Linked DNA regions of Homo sapiens. The protein of the gene in region 1 interacts with the protein of each later gene in a biochemical or structural test. Each region holds a gene or a part of one and is shown in the gene's direction. Other genes may lie near its edges.

Region 1 (7,623 bases):
CTCTTAGACCCTAGGCAACTATTTGGATATTATGGTGTGGGTTGCTTCCAGATATGAGCCTGACAGTTCTAGGTCAGTGCAATGTATGTGAATTAAAGCCTGCTAAAAGTACTCTCACTGTAACTCTCCACAGCCGTCTATTTAAGATTTCTCGTAAGTTGACATAATTGTTCTTATGAGCAGCTATTTTTTTGGTGAAGGTTTTTTGGCTTCTGATTATAGAATGATTAGCCATTAGCAGCTTTTTAAAAAGAATTTCTCATATCTTGCTTTATTTGAAGTATTTCAGGCCAGGTTCCATGGCTCACGCCCGTAATCCTAGGACTTTGGGAGGCTCAGGCGGGCATAACATTTGGGGTCAGGAGTTCAAGACCAGCCTGGCCAACATGCTGAAACCCCGTCTCTACTAAAAATACAAAAATTAGCCGGGCGTGGTGGTGCACACCTGTAATCCCAGCTACTCAGGAGGCTGAGGCAGGAGAATCACTTGGACCTTGGATGCAGAGGTTGCAGTGAGCCAAGATTGCGCCACTGCACTCCAGCCTGGATAAGAGTGAGGCACAGTCTCAAAAAAAAAAAAAAAAAAGATTTGATTTGAGCCTGACAATTCTAGGTCAGAACATTTTTATTGTTAAAAACAGTAATTCCAGTACATAGTCAAATCATGACTGATTTTTCCCCCTAATATTATTGGAAAGTGAGCATTCCATACAACTTGATAATTTTAGCCTTTTTCGTAAAATTTACTTTGATGTTGCCATTGTTTAATTAGCCATTTTTTTGTTCAGTACTCTGATGTTTTTTCTGTGATCACTGAGGCATTTGTCAGGCTGTTTGCCACAGCCTTAAAAGGTATCCGTACTTTTGCTTCCTTTTTATTTGTTCAACCTTGGAAATTTATAGTTTTTCCAGTAAATACTGCCTTTGTAGAAATTAATTTTAAAACTTTCAAATTTTCCCTCAAAGTTTGTTTCAAGTTATTTTGACTATTTTTAGTAAACTGGTGGTACAGAAGTTAATCTGGTGACTAAACTGTGTCACAGGTGATAATTTAACCATGAAGTCTGTCAGATTTCCTTCCTAAGTCATAAACTAGCTACTAAAATAACTGTGTTACAAGGAGTTTACAGTCCTGTCTCCTATCCTTGGGGTGGAGATTGGTTCCAGGACCCGGCCATGGATATCAAACTCTGGGGATGCTTTAGTAAGTCCCTTAATATAAAGTGGTGTAGTAACCTACACACATCCTCCCTTATACTTCAGATCATCTCTAGATTACTTATAACGCCTAATACAATGTAAGTGCTATGTAAATAGTTGTTATACTGTATTTTTGTTAGTGTTTTTATTGTCGTATTGTCTTTTTTTTCCCCAAGTATTTTTGATCTGTGGTTGGTTGAATTCACATATGTAGAACCCAACTGTATTCATTTGGGAGAATGGAGAGCCAACTGTATTCATTTGGCCTTCTTAAGTTCTCATATGCTGTTTAAAGAAAATCATTTCTGGCCGGGCGCAGTGGCTCATGCCTGTAATCCCAGCACTTTGGGAGGCTGAGGTGGGCAGATAACGAGGTCAAGAGATCGAGACCATTCTGGCCAACATGTTGAAACCCCGTCTCTACTAAAAGTACAAAAATTAGCTGGGCGTGGTGGCGCACACCTGTACTCTCAGCTACTCGGGAGGCTGAGGCAGGAGAATCGCTTGAACCCGGGAGTCGGAGGTTGCAGTGAGCCAAGATTGCACCGCTGCGCTCCAGCCTGGCAACAGAGCGAGACTCCACCTCCAAAAAAAAAAGAAAAAGAAAAGAAAATCATTTCTATATATGTATCTAAGTGTAAGCCTGTATGGTAAAGTCTTAAACTTTCCTGGATTAATTTAAATTTTTAAGGATTATCAAAAAGTTAGTAAGTAGCATTCATGATCATTTAGATGAAAAATGTTAAGCCCAGTCTGGCTTTACTTTCCATGGTTCATGCTGATCTGTTTCCGTTGCCATTGGAGTTATATGCTTTAAGAAATGAAATATAATTTTTGGTTATTTAGGCTGTGTGCAGTGGTTTACAACTGTAATCCTAACACTTTGGGAGGCCAAGGTGGGCTGATCACTTGAGTCCAGGAGTTTGAGACCAGCCTGGGCAACATGGCAAAAACCCCATCTCTACAAAAAAAAAAAAAAACAAAAAAAAAAAACCACAGGCAAAAAGCCAAGGGTGGTGGTGCGCACCTGTAGTCCCAGCTATTTGGGAGACTGAGGTGGGAGGATCGCTTCAGCCTGGGAGGTGGGGGTTGCAGTGAACTGAGATGGAGCCACTGTACTCCAGCCCGGGTGACATAGCTAGACCCTGTATCATTAAAAAAAAAAAAAAAAAGGTTATTTAAAAGAAAATGTTACCCAAAGTCAGTTTTACTTTTAGTTGCTCTTTTGCATTTTTGATGCCATTACTATCTCTTTTAGATAGGTAATCCAAAATGGACTATTTTAACAACAATGTCTTTAAGTTACTTGCTTGGCTGTGCGGTTTGTATGATTACAGTTCAACTTAGAAAGTGTTCTCCAATAATGAGTTGCTCTTAATTTAATGGAATTGCTAAGGCCTAATATTACTATAAACCAATTTGGTAGTGAGTTTGCATGTTTATGTTATACAGGTTATTATCTAGTAAGTGAACACTTTAATTCATATGGAAATGATTACTGGACTTTGTTTACAGAAAGCCACAAAAAAAACTGATAAACCCAGACAAGAAGATAAAGATGATCTAGATGTAACAGAGCTCACTAATGAAGATCTTTTGGATCAGCTTGTGAAATACGGAGTGAATCCTGGTCCTATTGTGGGTAAGTTGATAAAATTTCAAATACAGTATCTTTTCTCTGAAGCAGGACCCCAAATTATTTTCTCCTTTTTGTTTAGCAGTTTAGGTTCCAAGGACTGGTTTGTCATTAATCATTTGTTATCAGCAGAACCTGTGTTTCTTTGACTGTAAATGAGTGAAATAAAATGAGAGGATTGAATTAGATAATCTCCAAAATTACCTCTATTGTTGAGATTGTTTTATATGGTGCTTATATCGTACTTTTTTTTTTTTTTTTTGGTTTTGTTTTGTTTTTTGTTTTTTTGAGACGGAGTCTTGCTCTGTCGCCCAGGCTGTAGTGCAGTGACGCGATCTCGGCTCCCTGCAAGCTCTGCCTCCCGGGTTCATGCCATTCTCCTGCCTCAGCCTCCTGAGTAGCTGGGACTACAGGCGCCCGCTGCCACGCCTGGCTAATTTTTTGTATTTTTCAGTAGAGATGGGATTTCACCGTGTTAGCAAGGATGGTCTCGATCTTCTGACCTTGTGATCCGCCTGCCTCGGCCTCCCAAAGTGCTGGGATTACAGGTGTGAGCCACCGTGCCTGGCCACTTATATCGTACTTCTGCTGAGACGTGGGTCTTGTATGACAATTGAGGAAAATCTGAGGTAACATAGCTGGGCAAATTTGCCCAAATAAATGAGTTAATGGCCGGGCGCAGTAGCTCACACCTGTAATCCCAACACTTTGGGAGGCCAAGATGGGAGGATTGCTTGTGCCCAGGAGTTGAAGAACAGCATGAGCAACATAGGGAGATCCCATCTCTGCAGAAAATTTTAAAATTAGCAGGGTGTGGTGTCACAAATCTATTGTCCCAGCTACTTAGGAGGCTGAGGCAGGAGGATTGCTTGAGATGGTGGGGGGAAGTCAAAGTTGCAGTGAGCCGTGATGGCTACTGTACTTCAGCCAGGGGCAGTGGAGCAAGACCCTGTCTCAAAAAAAATAAATAAATAAGGGAAAAAGAAAAAGTGAGTTAGTGACAGACTTCTTCTTAATGAAGTTATTAAATTCCTAGCCTAGTACCCTATTTTTTTTTTTTTTTTGAGACGGGGTTTCGCTCTTGTTGCCCAGGCTAGAGTACAATGGTGTGATCTTGGCTCACTGCAACCTCTGCCTCCCAGGTTCAAGCAGTTCTCCAGCCTCAGCTTCCCGAATAGCTGGGATTACAGGCACCTGCCACCATGCCCGGCTAATTTTTATATTTTTAGTAGAGATGGGGTTTTGCCATGTTGGCCAGGCTGGTCTGAAACTCCCGACCTCAGGTGATCCCACCCACCTCAGGCTCCCAAAGTGCTGGGATTACAGGTGTGAGCCACCGCGCTGAGCCCCTTTTTCATTTATCATTAAAAGTACCCTTTTGAAAGTCCTATCTTGATTGGAATTGAGGAATTATACCCTTAAAAAACAAAAACCTAGGACTAAATACACTGGATTTCCATCGTTGGATTACTTTTAGGTGATGAAGATTTTGCAGTGTTGATTATGCCTTAGTTTTGGAGGGTCTTAGCAATAACCTCAAGATGAGAAAATTCCATTTTATTATTATTTTTTTTTTTGACAAGGTCTTTGCTCTGTTGTCCACGCTGGAGTGCAGTGGCACAGTCATGGCTTACTGCAGCCTCAGCTTAGGCTCAAGCAGTCCCACCTCAGCCTCTCAAGTAGCTGGGAACACAGGCACGTGCCACCATTCCCGGCTAATTTTTGTAGTTTTTGTAGGGATGGGGGCACACTATATTGCCCAGGGTGGTCTTGAACTCCTGGGCTCAAGCAGTCCTCCCACTTAGGCCTCCCTAAGTCCTAGGATTACAGGCATGAGTCACTGCATCTGGTCTTGATCTTCTAAGTTACCTAAAATTGTGGACGCTAGAGATTTGGTAGGTTTTGCTATAGGTATAGTTGCAAATAAAGATTTAGAATATTTTGTTTTAATGTATAAGCTGCTTCCAAATAATCATAAGCTTATTCATATACAAGTACCAACAGATATATAACACTTTTAAAAAATGTTTTTGTTTAAAGTTCTAAAAGGCCTGGGCATGGTAGTTCATGCCTGTAATCCCAACACTTTGGGAGGCCAAGGTGGTGGAATTGCTTGAGTTCAGGAGTTGAAGAGCAGCCTGGACAACATAGTGAAACCTTGTCTCTATTTAAAAAAAAAAAAGTAGCCAGGCATGTAGTGCACACTTGTAGTCCTAGCTACTCAGGAGGCAAAGGTGGGAGGATTGCTTAAGCCCACAAGTTCAGGGTTGCAGTGAGCTATGATCGCACCACTGCAGTGCAGCCTGGGCAACAGAGCAAGACCTTGTCTCAAAAAAAAAAAAAGAAATTCCAAAAGGGAGACACTGAAAAATGTGTGTTATAATATCAGCCTACATTAAATTATATGTTGATGTATGACCTGTTCATCTTAAGGCTATTTATATAACATTTCTGGACACATGTTGCTTCTAAAAAATATCCATTATCATTTTGCTCATCTTACCAGGAGTTAAGGAAAGATAATACAGTTAATGTAAAACAAAATCTATTTTGGTTTTAAACTGTCACTGATGTTCAAATGTATTAAGAATTTGTAATCAATTTTGCTTTGTGATATGTGTTTTCCATAAAAGGTCATTTTAACTGCAAAGTTGTTATATTTAAATCTGATTTATAGAACTTTTCTTTTCCCCATAACTGAATACAGGCATATTAATGTCTTAGAGTTGTGGAAATTTAATCATAGTTATTTTTCATAGAGGTACAATCCGCTTACATGTGATTTTTCTACCTTGGCAAGTACTATTACGTAGTAGTAGAGAAAATAAATGCAAGACTTCAGTCAAAAATAGTCATACATGGCTTTTCAGTAGATGGTCTATAGAAAGGCCTGTATTAACCTACTATGTATTTCATGCTATTAAAAGAAATGTCATTTCCCAAAAAACCACCTGTTGTAAAAAGAGTGCATTATATAGTTGTGTGGAATGCAATGGTGCGATATCAGCTCACCGCAACCTCCATCTCCTGGGTTCAGTTCTCCTGCCTCAGCTTCCTGAGTGGCTGGGATTACAGGCGCCCACCACCAGGCCCAGCTAATTTTTTGTATTTGTGGTAGAGACTGGGTTTCACCATGTTGGTCAGGCTTGTCTTGAACTGCTGACCTTAGGTGATCCACCCGCCTTGGCCTCTGGAGGTGCTGGGATTACAGGCATCAGCCACCACGTCCTTTTTTTTTTTTTTTTTTTTTTTAAGACAGCATCTTACTTCCTCTCCCAGCTGGACAGTGGTGCGATCTCAGCTCACTGCAACCTCTGCCTTCCAATTTCAAGTGATTCTCCTGTCTCAGCCTCCCAAGTAGCTGGGATCACAGGCGTGTGCCACCATGCCCGGCTAATTTTTGTATTTTTAGTAGAGATAGTTTCCCTGTGTTGGCCAGGCTGGTCTCGAACTCCTGACCTCAAGTAATGTACCCGCCTCAGCCTCCCAAAGTGGTGGGTTTACAGTCGTGAGCCACTATGTCTGGCCGCATTATATGGTATTTTTTTTTTTAAGAACTTGAGTTTAGAAAAATAAAGGGTGAAAATAGCTTAAAATGTTGCTGAAGATAGTGTCTGAGCTGCATCCTAAATGAAACAATACAGGTACTAAAGCAAGTTCTGCCTTAATCCAGGAACAACCAGGAAGCTATATGAGAAAAAGCTTTTGAAACTGAGGGAACAAGGAACAGAATCAAGATCTTCTACTCCTCTGCCAACAATTTCTTCTTCAGCAGAAAATACAAGGCAGAATGGAAGTAATGATTCTGACAGATACAGTGACAATGAAGAAGGTAAAATTTTAAATGATGTTAATCAAATGTATGGAATTTTTTCACACTCAAAATTCAGTGACCATGAAGAAAGTAAAATTTAAAACAATATTGGCAAGATACACAAATTTTATTCGTGTCATTAGAGTAATTCTGTAATTTGATTTAAATACTTTTTATTGAAAATTCTAAGAAGCAACATAGTACAAATTCATAATTTTCCATCACCTGAAATTGCAAGTTAACTTTGTCTTTTTTGCTACAAATCTCATTTTTCTGAGAGAATAAAGTATTACAAGTAAAGGCAAAGTTTCTCGTACTTACCTGTACCTATCACCTCCACAGAAGTAACTACTATTATTAATTCAATGCCTGTCTTTCAAGTTTTATATTTCACATACACATCTGTCTAATACATGGTATTATTTTATACTTTAAGAATAAAAAATTTATATAAACAGTATGCTAAATCTTATCACTTGCTTTTTCTTACTCCATTATTTTTGAAATCTAATCCTGTTAATTACATATCTGTTTATTCTTCATAATTAATACATAGTGGTAGCATTTAAATATGGCATATTTTCTCTGTTCTCTATTGATAGGCATTTAAATTGTTCGCAGTTTTTGTTAATCTGACCTCAGGGCAACTTTAAAGCAAATATTTTGACTATATTTTTAGTAGACTGTATAGTATCTTAAAATTTGATCATGATGTTTAAATATTTTTTAAGGATAGTATGTGAAATAAATGTCCTTTAAAAATTATAAATACAACTTGATTTTTGTAAACTTTTAATTAATATGACTTGTGATTATTTATTTTGATCCAGATTGTTTATATCTCAATAAGCTTTGTCTACCAGGGCAAATCTGGCAGATTAGTTCAGAATATGAAATTATAGTCTTTTCCTTTGACAGCACTATTTTTAGCAAAGAGGCAAAGAATAAAATCAGCTCAAACACAGGTAATGCT
Region 2 (7,623 bases), on another chromosome or scaffold:
GTTGTCACCCTACTCTTGGCTCAGATAATAAAGATTGAAGGCAACCTAACCTAATTCCAGTTATCTTTTAATTTTTGGTACTCTGTGTTACTCCTTCAAATAAGACTCTTTTTTTTTTTTAGATCAGGCACGGTGGCTCACACTTGTAATCACAACACTTTGGGAGGCCGAGGCAGGAAGATTGCTTGAGGCCAGGAGTTTGAGATGAGCCTGGGCAACATAGCAAGACCCTTTCTCTATAAAAATTAAAAATAAAAAAGTTAGCTCTGCGAGGTTGAGGCTGCAGTGAGCCATGATTGTGCCACTGTGCTCCAGCCTGGATGACAGCGAGACTCTGGGATTTTTTTTTTGTTTTTTTTTTTGAGACGGAGTCTTGCTCTGTCACCCAGGCTGGAGTGCAGTGGCGCCATCTCGGCCCACTGCAAGCTCCGCCTCCCAGGTTCATGCCATTCTCCTGCCTCCGCCTCCCAAGTAGCTGGGACTACAGGTGCCCGCCACCACACCCGGCTAATTTTTTGTATTTTTAGTAGAGACGGGGTTTCACCTTGTTAGCCAGGATGGTCTTGATCTCCTGACCTTGTGATCCGCCCTCCCTGGCCTCCCAAGGTGCTGGGATTACGGGCATGAGCCACTGCGCCCGGCTGACTGGGAGGTTTGCTGGAGCCCAGGAGTTCAACATTGCTGAGCTATGATCATGCCATTGCACTCCAGCCTGGGCAACAGAGCAAGATCCTGTCTCAAGAAAATATATACTCTTTTTTAAAAAGGAGAAAGGAAAAGTATAAAACTGAGAAGCATTTGTTTTGTTTTGTTGAGACAGGGTCTCACTATGTTGCCCAGGTTGGAGTGCAGTGGCACAAAATCATAGCTCACTGCAGCCTCGCCCTCCTGTGCTCAAGTAATCCTCCCACCTCACCTCAGCCTCCCAAGTAGCTGTGACTACATGTGCATGCCACCATGCCTGGCTAATTTTTTATTTCTGAGATGAGGTCTCACTATGTTGCCACGCAGGTCTTGAACTCCTGGGCTCAAGTGATCCTCCCAACTCAGCCTCCCAAAGTACTGGTATTACAGACATGAGCCACAGCATTTGGCCTGCTTTTGTATTTTTGAGCAAAAAAAGTTGACGAGAGATTGGTTAAAAGCAAGGAGTGTTGCTGCAGAACTAGAAATCCATGGTCTCAAAGTGAGAGGATTGCTTAAGCCCAGGAATTCAACACCAGCATGGGTAACATAGTGAGACCCTGTCTCTCAAAACAAAAAAAGAAAAAGAAAACAAAAATTAGCTGGGCCTGGTGGTGCGTGGCTATAGTCCCAGCTATACAGGAGACTGAAGTAGGAGGATCACTTGAGCCCCGGAGGCTGAGGCCACAGTGAGCAGTGATTGTGCCACTGCACTCCAGCCTGGATGACAGTGAGACCCCCTGTCTCTAATAAAAATAGAAAGAAAGAAATCCGTGGGCTAGGCGTGGTGGCTCACGCCTGTAATCCCAGCACTTTGGGAGGCCGAGGTGGGCGGATCACGAGGTCAGGAGATCGAGACCATCCTCGCTAACACAGCGAAACCCCATCTCTGTGAAAAATACAAAAAATTAGCCAGGCGTGGTGGCAGGTGCCTGTAGTCCCAGCTACTCAGGAGGCTGAGGCAGGAGAATGGCGTGACCCCAGGAGGCGGAGCTTGCAGTGAGCCAAGATCGTGCCACTGCACTCCAGCCTGGGCGACAGAGCGAGACTCCGTCTCAAAAACAAACAAACAAAAAAAAAAAGAAATCTGTGATCTAACATTTAGCTTTATAGGGCCATATAGGGCATATTTTATTTTTTTCAACCAGCGCTAATCAGGCTGATAAATTGTACCAAGAGAACACTTTACAAACCAGCTAAGAATTTAGGCCGGGCGTGGTGGCTCACGCCTGTAATCCCAGCACTTTGGGAGACCGAGGCGGGCAGATCTTCTGAGGTCGGGAGTTTGATACCAGCCTGACCAACATGGAGAAAACCCGTCTCTACTAAAAATACAAAATGCGTAGTGGCGCATGCCTGTAATCCCAGCTACTCGGGAGGCTGAGGCAGGAGAATCGCTTGAGCCTGGGAAGTGGAGGTTGCGGTGAACCGAGATCGCACCATTGCACTCCAGCCTGGGCAACAAGAGTGAAACTCCGTCTCAAAAAAAAAAAAAAAAAAAAAAGAATTATTCATAATAGGAGCCAAAACTGGCTACAGAAGGGCCTGCTCTGCGATCTTTGCAGATGGTATTGTGGAACAGAATGTTAATGTGGTGCAGGGTATAGAGTTAGAGCAGAGATTGCCATTGATCTTGGAGGGTTTGATGGATCGTCTTTCCTTCCTAGGGAAGCACCAGGGCCCCTCTCGCCTGAACAGACACAGATATTTTGCTCAGCAGCTTGCTGACTGTATCTTGTGAGGGTGTGGTAGGCTGTCATTTGCAGTTGCAGTACTCACAGATCACATTACCTAAAGTCTGAGGCCATTTTACTGGTGGCCCAATTGCTGAAAGAACAAGTTTCCAGAGGCCAGTTGAGCAAACAGTGGAGACCGCAGGGGCTGGGTATTCCTTACATTATAAGGCTTTCCCCTGGGTGAACTCTTCAAAGCTGCTCTCAGTGTTTCTTATGGACAGCTATTAATCAACAATGCCTGGATTTTAGGCATCTCAGGAAGGTCCAGATCCCTGGAAGGAATCCATTTGAATGGATTTCTAGCCTCTTTACTTAGGGAAGGTAGAAGACTGGATCTGTATACCCTCGGTTTTATCCTGCCTCAAGTCCCAGTCCCTACTCTGGAAAGTGAAGATGAAGCTGGGTTCACAGCTCCGTCTTTGGAACCCTTGGAGCTAGATGTATTTTGGAATTCTAGCTTAAGAGAAGTCACGTGGGGTCTGGGGAAGCACCTTGTATTTAAATAGATTAATTCTGCACTAAGTAGGACAAAGAAAGATTATAAATGTCCTTACAGGTGAAAACAGCTCCAGCGTGAGTTTTGGCACCACACTGGTAGAAAACACTTGGTGTTCAGACCCTTTTGGACCTGGGGGAATTGCAGAGTAAGGAATCTTGCCCACCTGCCCTTATTGTCTGTGGTGAGGATGAAATGAGATCATTGCAGATAAATGTTCTTAGCACCCTGCAGGGAAAGCACTTGTTTGCTGTTGGCTGCTGCTGCTGTGGTCTTAAGAGATAAAATAGAGACACTGTCAACAAATAAGAGAACGCTTACCCAGGGGGAAGGCACTTCTGTAGGTTTTTGATGTAAACAAGCTGTTAAAGGCATAGGCTTTAATTTTCAGGTCATGAGTTGGCTCTGATGGGAAAGGCAAATACTGCCTCTTATGGTATCTGTCGTAATTTCAGTGCTGAGAGAAAATTATTCAAAAATATGTATTTCTGGCCGGGCGCAGTGGCTCACGCCTGTAATCCCAGCACTTTGGGAGGCCAAGGCGGGCGGATCACAAGGTTAGGAGATCGAGACCATCCTGGCTAACATGGTGAAACCCCATCTCTACTAAAAATACAAAAAAATCAGCCGGACATGGTGGCACGCGCCTGTAGTCCCAGCTACTCAGAAGGCTGAGGCAGGAGAATCGCTTGAACCCGGGAGGTGGAGGTTGCAGTGAGCCGAGATCGTGCCACTGCACTCCAACCTAGTGCGAGACTCCGTCTCAAAAAAATATATATGTATTTCTAACTGTAGAGTTGTTGTTTTTTCTTTTTTTAATGTAGTTTTAAAGCAAGTGTCAGGATTAGCATCAGTCATAGTCTGTAGGAGCACTGGTTTCTGATAGAGGTAGAAGTTTTCCTTACTTGGCACTAACTCATTTTATTTTATTTCATTTATTTATTTATTTTGAGATGGAGTCTTGCTCTATTACCCAGGCTTGAGTGCAGTGGCACGATCTCCACTCACTGCAATCTCCGCCTCCTGGGTTTAAGCAGTTCTTCTGCCTCACCCTCCCAAGAACCTGGGATTACAGGCAGGTGCCACCACACCCAGCTAATTTTGGGGTTTTGTTTGTTTGTTTTGAGACGGAGTCTTGCTCTGTCGCCTAGGCTGGAATGCAGTGGCATGATTTTGGCTCACTGCAACCTCTGCCTCCTGGGTTCAAGCGATTCTCCTGCCTCAGCCTCCTGCGCAGCTGGGACTACAGGCACACACCACCACGCCCAGCTAATTTTTGTATTTTTAGTAGAGACAGGGTTTCACCATATTGGCCAGGCTGATCTCGAACTCCTAACCTCGTGATCCACCTGCCTCGGCCGCCCAAAGTGCTGGGATTACAGGCGTGAGCCACTGTGCCCTGTAATTTTTGTATTTTTAGTAGCTAATTTTTGTATTTTTAGTAGAGATGGGGTTTCACCATGTTGGCCAGGCTGGTCTTGAACTCCTGGCCTCAACCAGTCCACCCCCCCTTGGCCTCCCAAAGTACTGTGAGTACAGGCATGAGCCACTGCATCCAGCCCTAATTCATTTTATGTTGAGAAATAGTTTGAAAGTTGAGAAGATAGGAAATTTTATGTATATATAATAATACTTATTTCCATATGACCATGCCACCCCAAATAATTACTTTTAAGAAATAATTGTTTTTTGTTTTTGTTTTTGTTTTGAGACAGGGTCTTGCTCTGTCACCCAGGCTGGAATGCAGTGGCGCAATCATAGCTCACTGCAGCCTTGACCTTCTGGGCTCAAGTGACACTCCCACCTCAGCCTCCCAAGTAGCTAGGACTACAGGCACATGCTGCCACAGCTGGCTTTTTTTTTTTTTTGTAGAGACAGGGTTTCACCCTGTTGCCCAGGCTGGTCATCTTGGCCTCCCAAAGTGTTGGGATTACAGGCATGAGCCACTGCCCGGCCCAGAAATAATTGTTATAATTGTTATACACACTTTTTAATGGGAAAACCAAAATAAAAAGCAGTTTCTGTTTCAGATTTAGAACAGGGAGGGGGGTATTATTTGCTTTAACATGGTTTTGAAGCTAACCTCCATCCTTGTTTGAATTCCAAGTGGCTCACCCTTCAGGGATTTGAATAGTTTCCTCATTTAACAGAATGATAACTTGGGTGTTCATTTCTCAAAATAGGCTACTGGCTTAAATGTTTAAAAATTTTTATTTGGGGCCAGGCTCTGTGGCTCACACCTGTAATCCCAGCACTTTGGGAGGTTCAGGAGGGTGGATTGCTTAAGCCTAGGAATTAAAGACCAGCCAGGGCAACATGATGAAACCCCATCTCTACAAAAAAGTATAAAAATTAGCTGCGAATGATGGCACGAACGTATAGTCTCAGCTACTTGGGAGGCTGAGGCAGGAGGATTGTTTGAGCCTGGAAGGTCGAGGTTGCAGTGAGCCGTGATCATGCCACTGCGTTGCAGCCCGGACAGAGTGAGACCTTGTTTTTAAAAAGTAAATAAATAATTTTTTAATCTAGTCCTCCTGGTATAGCAAGTTAAACATAGCCTGCCTTTCCATTGGGTAATATTTTCTGACGGTCTAATTAAACTGTGGAATCTAGAGGTTTTGGTGGCTTTTCGTTGAGAGAAGGGCCTGCTGGCAATCCTATACCAAAGGTTAGGTAGTCTCAGGTCATTTCCCTGTGACTTGCTTGTGGAAATTAACCCCACTGTCTTTATGTTTAGGCTTTGTCCAGGGATCTGAAACCACTTTGCAGTCGACATACTCGGATACCAGCGCTCAGCCCACCTGTGATTATGGTAAGTGTGGACTTCTGGTGGGAACCAAAGTGTTCTGCAGAGCAGTTCCTTGTCTTCTTAGTTGCCTTTGGCTTTGCTGTCACCCTGTCATGCTTTTTTAAACCTAAACTTGTGTGAAATGGTGTGGCCATTTGAATAGCTAGTGCTTCCCTTTCAGGCAATTATGGGAAAAGTAGCTGTGTTCCTGAGCAAGTTAGGCTCTTTGATAAAAGGCCTGGCTTCAAATCCCCATGGGGGAGGGACTGGGAGTCACAGTGGCCAATTAAAGTCCAAAGGAGGCCAGGCGCGGTGGCTCCTGCCTGTAATCCCAGCACTTTGGGAGGCCGAGGCGGGTGGATCACTTGAGGTCAGGAGATCGAGACCATCCTGGCCAACATGGTGAAATGCCATCTATACTAAAATACAAAAAATTAGCCGGGCATGGTGGTGTGTGCCTGTGGTCGCAGCTACTCAGGAGGCTGAGGCAGGGGAATCACTTGAACCCGGGAGGCAGAGGTTACAGTGAGCCGATATCATGCCACTGCACTCCAGCCTGGCAACAGAGCAAGACTCTGTCTCAAAAAAAAAAAAGTCCAAAGGATTGGTCCAGGAGAAAGCAAGCTATTAACTTAGTCCCAGCATAGTGCATGTCCTTGCTGTGGGAGAGAGGCTGAGTGTGTGAATCTGGCAGCTTTTGGAGACTCAGCCAGGCCACCTCAAGCCAGCAGGCTCCACACACACAGAGTTGAGTGAAGATCTCTGATTGAGTTTTCCAGCGTGGACAGAAACACCTAATTAGCTAATTCAGAAGTAGCCACCAGTAGGATTCACAGATGCTGTTTTGTTTGTGTGCTGTGGCAGCCCGGACTGCTGTTAAAGCTGGTTTTTGGTTGTCTGTGACTCTAGGGGTATCTGTTGAGAAGGAGCCCTCTTTGGAATTAACAGGGATAATGTCTTAGTTACTGAGATGGGTAATTTCTTTTACTACCAAGATCTGGGGAAAGACTGATCCTACACAGCTAACATGCCTTCAGGGGTCACTGCATAAAGAGACTTAAGTAAGCTCCCCAAGTAACAGCAGCTAGTCCCAGGAAAAGGGAAGACTTAAAATATTTTGAAATTGAGTGAGAAGGTATCAGGTGTCTCATAAATGAGGAGAAACTTGGTTTGCTTGACTTCCCTGTGCTGCCCTCCCTGCCTCTCCCTTTTCATCAAATGTAGTCCCTAATTGCACATCCTTTTGAATTATTTTCCCTCTGGATTGCATATTCTGAGTACAAGCCATTTCTCGGATATGCCATTTACAAATATTTTCTCCCAGACTGTGGCTTGTCTATTCTCTTGTCAGTGTGTCTTGTCTTGTGTCAGAAAGAACACAAGTTGTTAATTTTGAAGCCCAATTCAATCTTTTCTTTAATAGATGATGGTTTTGCTTTTATATCTAAGAAATCTGTAATATTTTCTTTAGAATTTTCTTTTAGGTGTTTTAGTTGTGGGTTTTACATTTAGTCTGTGATCCATATTGAGTTAATTTTTCTACAAGGTGTGCAGTATAGGTTAAGGTTTCTTATTCTTCTATGGCATATAAATATATAATTGTTCCAGCACCATTTGTTTAAAAAACAAAAACAAAAACAAAACCATTTTTTCTTTCTTTTTTTTTTTTTTTGAGACAGAGTCTCACTCTGTCCCCCAGGCTGGAGTGCAGTGGCGCGATCTCAGCTCACTGCAAGCTCCGCCTCCTGGGTTCATGCCATTCTCCCGCTTCAGCCTCCCGAGCAGTTGCCCGCCACCACGCCTGGCTAATCTTTTTGTATTTTCAGTAGAGACGGGGTTTCACCGTATTTGCCAGGATGTTCTCGAGCTCCTGACCTCGTGATCCTCCCGCCTCGGCCTCCCAAAGTGTTGGGATTACA
Region 3 (7,623 bases), on another chromosome or scaffold:
TCCTCATCAATTATTCATTGACCCTGAGTGCTTCCTCGGCCACTTGCAGAGTCAGCAGGAAGCAGGGCCTGGCTCCACTGCACCCTCCGGAGCCCTCTGCTGTAGCTGCCCTAGCCCAGGAAGGTGGGGCCCAGTGTGTCCAGGCTGAGCTTCCCTGACAGCCCCCACCCACCCCGACCTGTCAGCAGATCCCTGGGTCTGGCAGCTGGGGGAGCAGCGGTTCTGGCATCAGGTCCCTGGGTGCTCTGGCCAGCGGCTCACAGACCCCCAGCTGGGCCTCACTTCCATGTCATGAGGGGACCACCATGGCCTTGTTCTGAGGCTGGCTCAGGGTCACCAGAGGGTCAGTGGCAGAAGAAGGTTTTGAAAAATGGAGCCCAATCCCTTGCCTGCTCCAGGCACTAGAGGGCCCTTCCTAGGCTGCCTGCAGGATCAGGGTGGACCTGGGTATGGGGCCATGTCTTGATTGTCCTCCTTTCCCCTTGGGTGGCAGAGGAAGGACATCCTTGCAGAGTTGACCAAGAGCCAGAAGGTTTTCTCAGAAAAGCTGGACCACCTGAGCCGCCGTCTTGCCTGGGTCCATGCCACTGTCTACTCCCAGGTGTGCTGGTATTGCAGCTGCCCCTTCCCGACCTCACTGTCTGGCCACGGGTCTAGCAAGATTGTGCCAGGGCCCTTGATGCCCCCACCCTCTCAGGCCTCTGGCACACACATGTCCCTTCCCACACTTCAGACTCCATCACCCCATGCCATGTCCCCTGTACCCCTCATGCTCTGTGGACTGAGGAAGCGCAGTTTCTGGACCTCCAGTTCGCCTCATAGACCTGTCCTTCGAGGAACAAACTCTGTCTGTCTGCCTCCCCTGCTCCCACCCCCTCCCAGTTTCTTGGCCCCCGTCCTTCTCTCCCAGTGCATCAGGGGCTCTGCAGTCTTTCCCGGAGGCACACTCCACCATCTGTGCCTGCCTCTGTCTGACTCATTACCACCCGAGGCCACTGGCTTGTTCCCCACTCACTCATTCACTTGCTCATTCATTCAATAACATGCACTCAAAACCTGGTGTGTGCCAGGTGCTGTCCTGGAACTAGGGACACACACACATTAATAAGTCAGAAAGATGAGCCTCTGCCTTCTGAAGGCACTCAGCCTGGTCAGATACATGGATGGACAGACAGATGGATGGGGCACTCCTGCTGTGACTGAAGTTTCACCCCCAGGCCTCAGACTCTCTGGACTTGTTTCCTCTCCCTGCCCCTCTTGGCATCTCTTCCCTAACCAGTGAGTGCCCTGAGGGTCTCTTCAGGTGCCCAGGTCAGGGTATCTGCTGTCTTCTTGGGCATACCCCTGCATGACTGGGTGATCGAGGCCTTTGGTATCCCCATTTCTATCATCTCTGCTTGCTGTTTCTTCTCATGGCTCTTTTGCAAAACCCAAACCACCTCCACCTTTTTCCCATTCGTGACTCTCCTGCTACCCTGGATGACCGTGCTTACTGCCCCATGACGGGAACTTCCTCTCCCTTCTGCCCTGAGATTTCCTGCCTGCCCACCTCCCTCAGAAGTTTGGCTGCCCTCTCCCACACTGTCTTCTCAAGACCCTTGCCCTCTCATCTCTCTGCCTTTTTTTAGTTATGCTAAAATATGTGTGACATAAAATGTACCATCCTAGCTGTGTTTTTTTTGTTTTGTTTTGTTTTGTGTTTTTTTTGAGACAGAGTCTCACTCTGTTGCCCAGGCTGGACTGCAATGGCATGATCTTGGCTCACTGCAACCTCTGTCTCCCGGGTTCAAGCAGTTCTCCTGGATTATAGATGTGCTACCGCGCCCAGCTACTTTTTGTATTTTTTGGTAGAGACAGGGTTTCACTTTGTTGGCGTGGCTGGTCTCAAACTCCTGGCCTCATGTGATCCTGCCACCTCGGCCTCCCAAAGTGCTGGGGTTACAGGCGTGCGCCACTGTGCCCGGTCACCCATCATAGCCATTTTTAAGTGTTAAGTCTATTCACATTGTCGTGCAGCCAATCTCCACACTCATTTCATCTTGCAAAACTGATACTCCGTGCCTGTTGAACAAAACCTCCTGTCCTCCCTTCCCCAGCTTCCCTGACAGCTCCCACCCATCCCCACCTGTCAGCAGATCCCTGGGTCTGGCAGCTGGGGGAGCAGTGGTTCTGGCATCAGGTCCCTGAGTGCTCTGGCCAGCGGCTCACAGACCCCCAGCTGGGCCTTACTTCCATGTCATGAGGGGACCACCATGGCCCTGTTCTGAGGCTAGCTCAGGTTGCCCCTGGCAACCACCATCCTACTTTCTGTCTCTGAATTTGACTATACTAAGCACCTCATCTAGGAAGAATCATACACTATTTGTTCTTTTGTGTATGGCTTTAGCATAATGTCCTCAAGGTTCATTCGTGTTATAGCATGTGTCAGAATTTCTTCATTTTCCAGGCTGAATAATATTCTGTTGTACGGACACCACATTTCATATATCCAGTCCTTTGCTGATGGACACTCGGGTTGCTTCTACTTTGGGCTACTGTGAATAATGCTGTAATGAACATGGGTTTGCAAAGATCTCTTTGAGACCCTAATTTCAATTCTTTTGGTTATATACCCAGAAGTGGAATTACTGTATCATATGGTAATTCTGTTTTTTATTTTATTTTTAATTTTAATTTTTTATTTTTTTTGAGATGGAGTCTCACTCTGTCACCCAGGCTGGAGTGCAATGGTGCGATCTCGGCTCACATCCTGGGTTCAAGTGTTCTCCTGCCTCAGCCTCCCGAGTAGCTGGGACTACAGGTGCGCACCACCATGCTCGGCTAATTTTTGTGATTTTTTTTTTCTTTTTTTGAGGTGGAGTTTTGCTCTTCTTGCCCAGGCTGGAGTGCAATGGCGCGATCTCGGCTCACGGCAGCCTCTGCCTCCCAGGTTCAAGCAATTCTCCTGCCTCAGCCTCCTGAGTAGCTGGGATTACAGGCATGTGCCACCACGCCCAGCTAATTTTGTATTTTTTTTTTTTTGAGACAGAGTCTCACTCTTTCACCCAGGCCGGAGTGCAATGGCGCTATCTCAGCTCACTGCAAGCTCCGCCTCCCGGGTTCACACCATTCTCCTGCCTCAGCCTCCCGAGTAGCTGGGACTACAGGCGCCTGCCACCACGCCCGGCTAATTTTTTGTATTTTTAGTAGAGACAGGGTTTCACCGTGTTAGCCAGGATGGTCTCGATCTCCTGACCTCGTGATCCACCCGCCTCGGCCTCCCAAAGTGCTGGGATTACAGGCGTGAGCCACCGCGCCTGGCCTAATTTTGTATTTTTTTTTAGTAGAGATGGGGTTTCTTCATATTGATCAGGCTGGTCTTGAACTCCCGACCTCAGGTGATTCGCCCGCCTCGGCCTCCCAAAGTGCTGGGGTTACAGGCGTGAGCCATCGCGCCCTGCAATTTTTGTATTTTTTGTACAGATGGGGTTTCACCGTGTTGGTCAGGCTGGTCTTGAACTGCTGACCTCAGGTGATCCGCCTGCCTCGGCTTCCCAAAGTGCTGGGATTGCAGGCATGAGCCACCGCGCCCGGCCAATTCTGTTGTTTAATTTTTTGGAAACTACCATATCATTTCTACAGTGGCTGTGCCTGTTACATTCTCACCAGTAGTGCATGAGGGTTCCAATTTCTCCATACATATCCTTACCGACACTTCTTATTTTCTGCCCTTTTTTTTTCTTGGTAGACGCAGGGTCTCACTATGTTGCCCAGTTGTCAAACTCCTGGGTTCAAGGAATCCTCCTGCCTCGGCCTCCCAAAGTGCGGGGATTATAGGCATGAGCCACCACACCCGGCAATTTCTACTTTTTTAATAGTAAATCCTAATGGGTAGGATATGGTACCTTATTGTGGTTCTGCATTTTGCTAATGATTAGTGACATTATGACAAATAGTACCTTTACAAGCACTTATTGGCCATTTGCATATCTTTTGTTTGTTGGTTTGTTTGTTTTGTTTTGAGAGGGAGTCTCGCTCTGTGGCACAGGCTGGAGTGCAGTGGCAAGATTTTGGCTCACTGCAACCTCTGCCTCCCAGGTTCAAGCGATTCTTCCACCTCGGCCTCCTGAGTAGCTGGGACTATAGGCATACGCCACCACGCCCGGCTAATTTTTGTATTTTTAGTAGAGATGGGGTTTCACCTTGTTGGTCAGGCTGGTCTCAAACTCCTGACCTTAGGTGATCCGCCTGCCTCGGCCTCCCAAAGTGCTGGGATTACAGGCTTCAGCAACCGCGCCTGGCCATATCCTATAATTTTGCTGAATTTATTTATTAATCCTAGTTGGGGTTTTGTGTGTGTGTGTGTATCTTTAGGATTTTCTACTTATAAAATCATGTCTGTGAACAGAGATAATTTTACTTTATCCTTTCCAGTGTGGTTTCCTTTCTTTTTCATGCTTAGTTGCTCTGGCTGGGATTTCCAGGACTGTGCTGAGCAGAAGTAGAGAAAGTGGCACACTTGTCTTGTTCTTGGTCTGAGGGAGGGAGGGATTATAGTCTGTTACCACTGAGTGTGATGTTAGATGGAGGCTTTTCATATATGGTCTTTATTATGTTGAACTGCCTTCATTCTCTGCATCTTCAGCACTAACTCACCTGTGTCTTTCTAATCCCATTATTAATGGAGAGATTCACTCCTGTAAACCAGCACTTTGGGAGGCTGAAGCGGGAGGATCACTTGAAGCCAAGAGTTCATGACCAGCCTGGGCAACCCATCTCTACAAAAAAAACAAAATTTAATTAGCGGGGCATGGTGACACATACCTGTAGTCCCAGCTACTCTGAGGTCAGGAGTTCAAGACCAGCCTGGCCAACATGGCGAAACCCCATCTCTCCTAAAAATACAAAAATTAGCAGGGCGTGGTATCACATACCTGTAGGAGGATCACATGAGCCCAGGAGTTCCAGGTTACAGTGAGCTGTGATTGTGCCACTGCATTCCAGCCTTGACGCTATATGTGCCCAAAAGTTATGCTCTCTCCTTCTTTCTCTGTCTTAGCTGCTACATCTTCCCCTTCATCTCCCTCCAGCACAGGCTCTTCCCCATCTCTGAAATAGTCTCACCAGGGTCTCTGTCTGCCCCCATCTCAATCCGGCCGGCACATTTCCATCTCCTTTGCATTGATACCTTAGCTCTGATGGGGCCATTGCCAGCCCCTCACCAGACACAGTCTTCGCTGGCCTTCTGTAGCAGCAGGATCATCGCTGCCTAGGTTTGCGCCTAGGCCCTCCCCTAACCTCTTGCTTACATCTTCTCCTCAGTTCCTTGGGCTTTAGGGCACATCAGAGAGCTGGTGTGAAGCCCAGGTGCTGTGACCGCACTCCAAGACACACGGGTGCTGTGGGTCTGGGCTGGGGCCTGAGGCCTCATTCTTGCCTGGGCTCCTTTGTGAGACCCTGACATAGACTTTGTGGAAACCACATTGTGGGGAGCAGGGCCCTCAGCAGGTTTTGTCTGTTTCCTGTGACCTCTGTTCCACCAGTCACACTGCCCCCTGCTTTCCCACCACCTTCTCCTTTGCACTCCAGATCAAATTTCTGCCTGTCTGCTTACCATCGCCAGCTCTCTTGGGCCCTTCACACACCTTGTACTCCACTTTTCCACACAGACTTCCAGTCACAGCACCCTCTTGCCTAAAACTTGCTTACAGGCTGAGGCAGGCAGATCACCTGAGGTCAGGAGTTCAAGACCAGCCTGGCCAACATGGCGAAACCCCATCTCTACTAAAAATACAAAAATTAGCCGAGCGCGGTATCACATACCTGTAGTCCCAGCTACTCGGGAGGCTGAGGCAAGACAATCCCTTGAACTTGGGAGGCGGAGGTTTCCAGTGAGCCAAGAGGGCGTCACTGCACTCCAGCCTGGGTGACTCCATCTCAAAAAAAAAAAAAACTTGCTTACAAATATGCTGACCAGAGTTCTGGCCTGGGTCACAGTAATGCGCCCTCCAGGCTGAGTGCGTCCCTCTTGCCTGCTGAGGACTTGATTGCCCTGCTTGAGCTACTGCTCATGCTTCCTGAAATCCAGGTCTCAGTTGTGCTGTCGTAGGCCTGGGGAGGCCTTTCCTGATCCCCAGGCCAGGACATGCCCCCAAGACCCCACTGGTGCGCAACCCAGCAGCACCCCGTGTGCCTCCTGCAGGAGAAGATGCTGGACATCTACTGGCTGCTGCGCGTCTGCCTGCGGACCATTGAGCACGGTGATCGCACAGGGTCTCTCTTTGCCTTCATGCCCGAGTTCTACCTGAGCGTGGCCATCAACAGCTACAGTGCTCTCAAGAATTACTTTGGTCCCGTGCACAGCATGGAGGAGCTCCCAGGTGATGGAACCATTCAGGCTGAGGCAGAAGCAGAAAAGGGGTCTCTAGTGTGAGCCCTAGGAGCCCTGGTCTGAGACCTCTGTGGCCCAGCAACACACTTCTGTGGGGGGCGGGGAGGGGAGGAGCTTCCTCTGTGGTTCACCCTGCAGCAAACAAACGTCTGCACCCTGCCCTGGGACCTGCAGCCACAGAGCCAACAGCTCCCTAGCAAAGGAAAACAGACAAGATGGAACACGGTGGGTGTAGACCTCTTGGCTTTCACTTCCTTCCTAGTGCTATGAGCAACTGCCATGGTCCAGGAGCCAGCTGGCCTTGCACCTTGACTCCCTGGCACTGGTCACAAAGCGTAGCAGTTGGTCAGGGGCAGAATGGTTTGTCTTGGTAAATCACAGCAGGGGGTGGACCCTGCTAGGGTCCACATCCGAACCTGGGCCTCTCAGCCTGCTGATTCCAGGCTGGGCGTGGCAGTGTATGTCTGGATCAGGCAGTGAGCTGTCAGGCCCCTAGCCTGCCCCCTGCCCAGCCACAGGCCTCAGTGCAGGCTTTGTCTTCAAAGACAGAGCTGTGAGTGCCCAAGGAGCTTTGACTGCTCATCAGGTGTGTGTGCTGAGATGGGTTTGAGCCCAGGTCAGGGCTCCTGCCAGGGCCTGTCATCCCTTCACAGTGAGCCTGTGCCTTAGCCCTTGCACAGCCACCAATGAATGCTTTGCCCGATGTCCCCAGATGCCACCCTGGGTCCAGGCTGGCCTTGGGAGCCAGCTCTAGAGCCTGCTACCCAAGTCCACCCACCCTGCTGACATGCCTGCCTCTGGAGCCCCCACTCCCAGCCGACACGTCTCACTTCCCACCCTTGCAGGCTATGAAGAGACCCTGACCCGCCTGGCTGCCATTCTCGCCAAACACTTTGCCGACGCACGCATTGTGGGCACTGGTGAGGGGCCCCTACAGAGGGTACAGGGGGAGGGGGATGGGATGGCACCTCTGGTCGGCTTTCTTCTATGAAAAATGTGGCCAGGTGGGCATGAAGTATGGGTCCAGGGCTCATGCCAAGCCCCTGCTGAGGCACGGTGTGTCCCCGCAGACATCCGAGACTCACTGATGCAGGCCCTGGCCAGCTACGTGTGCTACCCACACTCCCTGCGGGCTGTGGAGCGAATCCCCGAGGAGCAGTGAGTGGGGCCTGGGGGGCACACACCCTGGCCACAAGCACCATGCCCAGCCTCACCCCGTCTCTCCCCTCCTTGCCCTCACAGGCGTATCGCCA

What was found. The genes of interacting proteins can lie anywhere in the genome.
Region 2: the proteins of TMPO (region 1) and AKAP8L form a complex in vitro, tested with the Homo sapiens proteins (one study listed by BioGRID).
Region 3: of the proteins of TMPO (region 1) and RNF123, one has a biochemical effect on the other in vitro, tested with the Homo sapiens proteins (one study listed by BioGRID).

The regions. Positions count from the first base shown.
Region 1 is NC_000012.12:98,525,171-98,532,793, forward strand, and holds part of TMPO (thymopoietin), read left to right. Parts: intron 1-2,715; coding exon 2,716-2,842; intron 2,843-6,509; coding exon 6,510-6,668; intron 6,669-7,623. UniProt on the Homo sapiens protein: May help direct the assembly of the nuclear lamina and thereby help maintain the structural organization of the nuclear envelope. Possible receptor for attachment of lamin filaments to the inner nuclear membrane.
Region 2 is NC_000019.10:15,408,625-15,416,247, reverse strand, and holds part of AKAP8L (A-kinase anchor protein 8-like), read left to right. Parts: intron 1-5,653; coding exon 5,654-5,728; intron 5,729-7,623. UniProt on the Homo sapiens protein: Could play a role in constitutive transport element (CTE)-mediated gene expression by association with DHX9. Increases CTE-dependent nuclear unspliced mRNA export.
Region 3 is NC_000003.12:49,706,298-49,713,920, forward strand, and holds part of RNF123 (E3 ubiquitin-protein ligase RNF123), read left to right. Parts: intron 1-493; coding exon 494-601; intron 602-6,181; coding exon 6,182-6,359; exon of another isoform or gene 6,360-6,595; intron 6,596-7,215; coding exon 7,216-7,290; intron 7,291-7,440; coding exon 7,441-7,528; intron 7,529-7,612; coding exon 7,613-7,623. UniProt on the Homo sapiens protein: Catalytic subunit of the KPC complex that acts as E3 ubiquitin-protein ligase. Promotes the ubiquitination and proteasome-mediated degradation of CDKN1B which is the cyclin-dependent kinase inhibitor at the G0-G1 transition of the cell cycle.